Linked DNA regions of Homo sapiens: region 2 is linked to region 1. A link means that fine-mapping ties the variant in region 1 to the expression of a gene that starts in the linked region. Tissue or cell type: monocytes. Region 1 holds a variant in brackets; the other region holds the start of a gene. All regions are shown on one strand. Distances are from middle to middle.

Evidence for each region. PIP is the estimated chance that this variant, and not a neighbour inherited with it, causes the effect. A credible set is the group of variants that fine-mapping cannot tell apart.
Region 2: CTBS starts here. The variant in region 1 is the best candidate, but not a certain one, in a credible set for the expression of CTBS in monocytes (TOPMed, PIP 0.81).

Annotation. Positions count from the first base shown.
Region 1 is chr1:84,613,185-84,615,860 of GRCh38, forward strand. All of the region lies in intron 2 of LINC01461 (long intergenic non-protein coding RNA 1461), which reads right to left. Among named protein-coding and RNA genes, the nearest start is that of LINC01461, 6.5 kb to the right of the region's middle. The variant T/A (reference allele first, on the strand shown) is at 1,635.
Region 2 is chr1:84,573,125-84,575,933 of GRCh38, forward strand. It overlaps CTBS (chitobiase), which reads right to left and starts at 1,316. Exons shown (of 7, transcript NM_004388.3): 1 at 1,115-1,316. The coding sequence starts at 1,291. RefSeq lists enhancers at 669-768, 879-1,168 and a silencer at 1,329-1,448.

The DNA.
Region 1 (2,676 bases):
CAAGTCTGGCAAAGAATGACTTATCTCATGAGGCTGGATTGAGACATGTTTACCAGACACTCTGGATCGACTCACTCAACATCTGTTCCCAGTGTTCTGCCTGTTCTACAGATCTAGAAATAAAGCCACGTTTCCAGAATTCCTTGAAGCTATGGTTCTGGATGTGATTCTGCCAAACAGATCTACTTTGGAAGGCCTACCAGTCTGTGGTATGCAGTGGCAGAACAGTTATTTAAATTATCACTTGTAGGCCAGGCATGGTGGTTCATGCCTGTAATCCCAGCACTTTGGGAGGCCGAGGAGGGTGGATCACCTGAGGTCAGGAATTTGAGACCAGCCTGGCCAACATGCTGAAACCCCGTCTCTACTAAAAATACAAAAATTAGCCAGGAGTGGTTGCAGATGCCTGTAATCCCAGCTACTCAGGAGGCTGAGGCAGGAGAATCTCTCGAACCCAGGAGCCAGAAGTTGCAGTGAGCCAAGATCGCACCATTGCACTCCAGCCTGGGCAAGAAGAGTGAAAATCCATCTCAAAATAAATACATTGTCACTTGTAGTCACCTGGGAGAAAAAGTATCCATGGAAATCAAAACGCTGGAAGGCCAAGTGGCTATGGTAATAAATCTTCATGGCAAGAGTGAATAATTCAAAGATAGTGGGGTTGGCTAGCTTCTTGAATTCTTATGAACATAAAGAAAGAAAAACATAAGCATGGAGTGACCTGTAGCATCCCAGATCTGGTACCAAATTCTGTGTCAATTAGGATTAGGCACAGCAGCAAGGGACAGATACTCAGAATAACAGTGGCTTGACCAAGTTATGGAAACACCAGGGGTTCAGTCTAGGTACTGACGCACAGAAAGCCAATCACTGAGACAATAAGTATTGCCAAGGAAGAAGGCTTTAATCGGGTGCTGCAGCCAAGTTATGAGAGCTCAGTCTCAAATCCATCTCCCTGACTGACTAAATCTAGGGGCTTACATAGCAGGGAAGATATGTAACAATGTTTAAGAAAACAGGAACTAGGGAGGGGCAAGGAGGCATCTGGTGTCAGTTCTCTTGATACTTTTTTGAGAGGCCTGAAGGTCCTTTCCTGAGGAGGGAACTCAGATAAAACAAATGCAAATTTCAAGCTAGGGGCCATTTCTATGTTTATCCCAAAACAACTGTTTATGGAACTGTTGGGCCCATTTCATTTCTCACAGAAAGTTCCAGAGGTAGGTACTCAGGCTGTGGCAGTTCTGCTCCATAGTACCTTCCAGCTTGCTGCCTCTCCTTCCCTTGGGTGTGATCCTCATGTTCATAGTCCAAGATGGTAGCCATCATGTCTGTATTCCAGGCTATAGGATGGAGAAGGCAGCAAACAAAAAGGGAGGGCAAAGGACATGTGTTTCCTCCCTCCTGAAAAAGTTCTTGGAAACTCTCACATGATACTTCTGTTTACATTCCACTGTACAGAACTTTGTCACCTGGCCACATCTAACTGCAAAAGAGAGGACATGTAATCAGCAATCACTATTTTAATCAGGAAGATGAAGAGAATGTAAAATTGGGAGGCAATCATAGGATGCATGGTAGAGAGTATCAGAGGAGGTAGCTGGGATGATGGGCACCAGATGGGAAAGGACTTGATA[T/A]GACAAGCCAAGGTGTTTGGACTTTATCCTACTGGCAATGAAGAATCATCAGATAGGTTTAAAGAGCAGAGAGATATAAACTGAGCTGTTCCACTGCCATCTCTCTGACAGCTATATGAAAGGGTTCTGGCGCAGTAATACCAAACCCCAGAGACCTGTTAGAAAGCAGTTACCCCAAAATGACAGTTTCTTCAATAAATGGTGCTGGGGAAGCTGGATATCCACATGCAGAAGAATGAAACTAGACACCTATTTCTCACCATATACAAAAATCAACTCAAAATGGAATGAAGATGTAAACGGAAGACCTAAAACTATAAAACTACTAGAGTACAACATAGGAGAAATGCTTCATGACATTGGTCTGGGCAAGAATTTTTTGGAAAAAACCTCGAAAGCACAGGCAACAAAAGCAAAAATAGACAAATGGGATTACATTAAACTGTAAAGCTTATGCACAGCAAAGGAAACCATCAACAAAGAGGCAACCTACAAAATTGGAAAAAAATGTCTGCAAACTATGCACTGGTGTAATGGGTTAATATTCAGAATATGTAAGAAATTCAATTCTAGCACTTTGGGAGGCCGAGGTGGGTGGATCACCTGAGGTTAGGAGATCGAGACCAGCCTGCCCAATGTGGTGAAAACCCGTCTCTACTAAAAATGCAAAAACTAGGTGGGTATGGTGGTGGGCACCTGTAATCCCAGCTACTTGGGAGGCTGAGGTAGGAGAATTGCTTGAACCCAGGAGACAGAGGTTGCAGTGAGCCAAGATCACACCACTGCACTCCAGCCTGGGTGAAAAGAGTGAGACTTCATCTCAAAAAAAAAAAAGAAAGAAAAAAGAAACAGAATATGTAAGAAATTCAAACAACTCAATAGCAAAAGAAAAAAAAAAGCCCATATAATCCAATCGAAAATGGGAATAAGACCTGAGTAGACATTTCTCAAAAGAAGACATACATACATATATATATATATATATATGTATATGAAAAAATGCTCAACATCAGTAATCATTAGGGAAATGCAAATGAAAACC
Region 2 (2,809 bases), 40 kb before region 1:
AGCCCAAGGTCAACAGTGAAAGGAAACTTAAGCTTAACCTATCAGAAACTGCCAACTAACCTCTAACTAGTAATTTTCCACCAAGTCATAGCTAAATAAGGCAAACAGTCATAGCCAACCAAGTAATTATTTTCCTTTGCTTCCCTGTTCGGCCTATAAAAGCCCATGCTACTAAAGCAGACCTCTCTGAACCCCTTCTGGTTTAAGTACTGCCGATTCATAAGTTGTTCTTTGCTCAAATAAAAAAGGTTATCCTACTTTGTCTGAAGTCTTTCTTTTAATAAGATGTTAGGTTTCCACACTAGGCAGGTTCTCCATAAACACTTTCACCATTTTTATTTCTTCTCCTAAGTCATGTATATATACTTTTTTACTGGCATCTAAGTGTTCTGCCTCAGATTAATGTACTAGATTAAGAACTAGGAATCATGCCTATTTCTACAAAAGAATCGTTCTTTGAATTAAGCCTTTGGACCTTCCTGATGTCATCCAATTCCTGCTTTCAGTCATCGAAGTGGGCAGTCAGGTGGTTTTAATATTGCTCCAGAAGGTGTTTGATTAAAGTTGCCAGAAGCCTTACAAATTGTTATGTAGATAGAAGGAAAATGTACTGAAAGCTATTTTTTTTACCACTCTTCATGGGTGGTTTTGAGGTACTTTAAAGGAAAGGGCTAGCAGGTATAGAAAACTAAAGGTAAGCAAAATACTCTGCATTCTAATGTACTGTTGGAGTGCTGAGATTCTTTCAAACGAAATCCTCGTTCCTTGGAAACATAAATGGATTATCCTACCTTGTTTGCTTTTTACACCCAGAGTGCTTCCGCAGAGGCACAGCAGGGGAATGAAAGGAGCTTGCCTTAGGAGGCAGATCTGGTTTGAACTCTCGCCTGCCTACGCAGGCACTTACAGGCTGTGAGGCCTGAGGAGTTACTCAACTTCTCTGAGCCCGAGCTTCCTCATCTATAAATTGAAGGATCCGTAAACAGGAAGGCCCTCATCGAGTGGTCAAAGCTGGTTTCGGCGCCCACGGCACCTCTCCTTAGGGCTCCGTTCTACCCTAACTTCTCTTCGTGCCCTGAAGCCCAGACCTAGAGGAGCAGAGGAAGGCGCTGACCTCGAAATCTGGATGGTGGCGAATCGGGCGGCAGAGCTCAGGCTCCGGGCATGGGCAGTCGGTCCCGGCCGCGAGCCGCAGCGCCAGCAGCGCCAGCAGCGCCAGCAGCGCTAGACCCGGGACGCCGCTCGGCGGGCTAGAGACGAGGCGCCAGCGTCGAAGCTGCGGCCGGGACATAGCAGCAGGTCTAGCGGGCCGGAGTGGGTTCCTACCGCCTGGGTGGGCGGGGCCTGCTGCGCGTCGGGGCAGGAAGGGGCGGGGAGAGTCGGGAAGGGCGGGGAGGGGCGGGAGGGGCGGGGCTCCGGGGCGGGCGTGGGAGGTCGGGCTTCGAGCGTCCCCGGGCGCTACAGGTGGGTGAAGTTAAGTGGCTGCTGGAGCGTCTCGGGGGACAGCCAGTGTCTGCGGCGCCGAGAGGGCCGTTCGTGGACTCAAATGGGTATCACCCCTACCGTTTATAGTCCTCCCAATAGTCTGCATCTCGTTTTGTCGTGGCTGGTCGTGTACTCCTTGTGGAGTCTGAAGGTACAAGGGGATCCCCAAAATGGAGAAGTGGGTGTCTTTGGAAGGGCCTACTGAGTAACATGGTTGGAGTGGCCAAAAGACTTTGTTTTTCTTTTGCTACTCAAAAGAAAGCTGGAATACCAAAAATTTTTACTTACGGATATCAGGTCTTAGTTAAGATCGTGGTTTGAATTCAAGCATCTAATTTTGCCTACTCTCCTGTTAAAAATCAAGTTTAACAACCTAAACACAAGGACAAAGAGATAACAGCAACAAAATGTTGGAAGCTGGAGAGCACAAGTATGAGTATGAGAGGTAAATCGGAAAAGGGGGAGATTAGTCAAAGGCTGCTCAAGGACTCTGATCGCTAGATCCTTTTTCCAGCTTCATGTCTCTGGGCAGCTGCCCCTCTTTCCCACCACGGGCTCCCACCCCGGCTGAATTCCCTGAAGGGGATAAATTCTCTGCTGAGTGGGTATTCCACCTAAAACGGAGAATAAGTGGCTTTATGCCTACTGAAAACTGAAACCCCTCGCTATCTGATTAACCTAAGAGGCTGAGCAAAGATACTGACATCGGGTTTTCTGGACAAATCATACACCCAGATCACCCTACAGTGAAATTCAAAGTTAAAAGCACCAGCTATCTACTTGGAGCTTCCTCTCTTTGTACTTTTTAATTTTTACTTTTAATCATGGACAGCAACCAAAAAAATCCAATAATGTAGAAAGAAGGGACCCAAACAACAGACAAAGGAATATGGAGGAAGCAGATGCTGCAGGGAGAACACTTTTAAAAATTCTCATAATAGCCCCAGAAAAATAAGAGAAGATGAAGCCACAACAGGGTGCAATAAAAGGGGTAGGGGATTTTTAAAAGTTAATAGAAATAAGAAAGAAGTGAAAAAACTATTAGTAGAAGATAACACTGAGGAATGTAGAGCAAAAACTCTGAAAGATAAGAAAATTGGAAAACGCAGTACAGAGGGGATGAAATAAATAATTCTTAAAGGTGCTTGAGAAGCAGCGTAGTACAAATAAGAAGAAATAAGTAATTTGGGCTGGGCACAGTGGTTCATGCTTGTAATCCCGGCACTGTGGGAGGCCGAGGTGGGCAGATCACTTGAGCTCAGGAGTTTGAGACCAGCCTGGCCAACATTGTGAAACCCCATCTCTACTAAAAATACAAAAATTA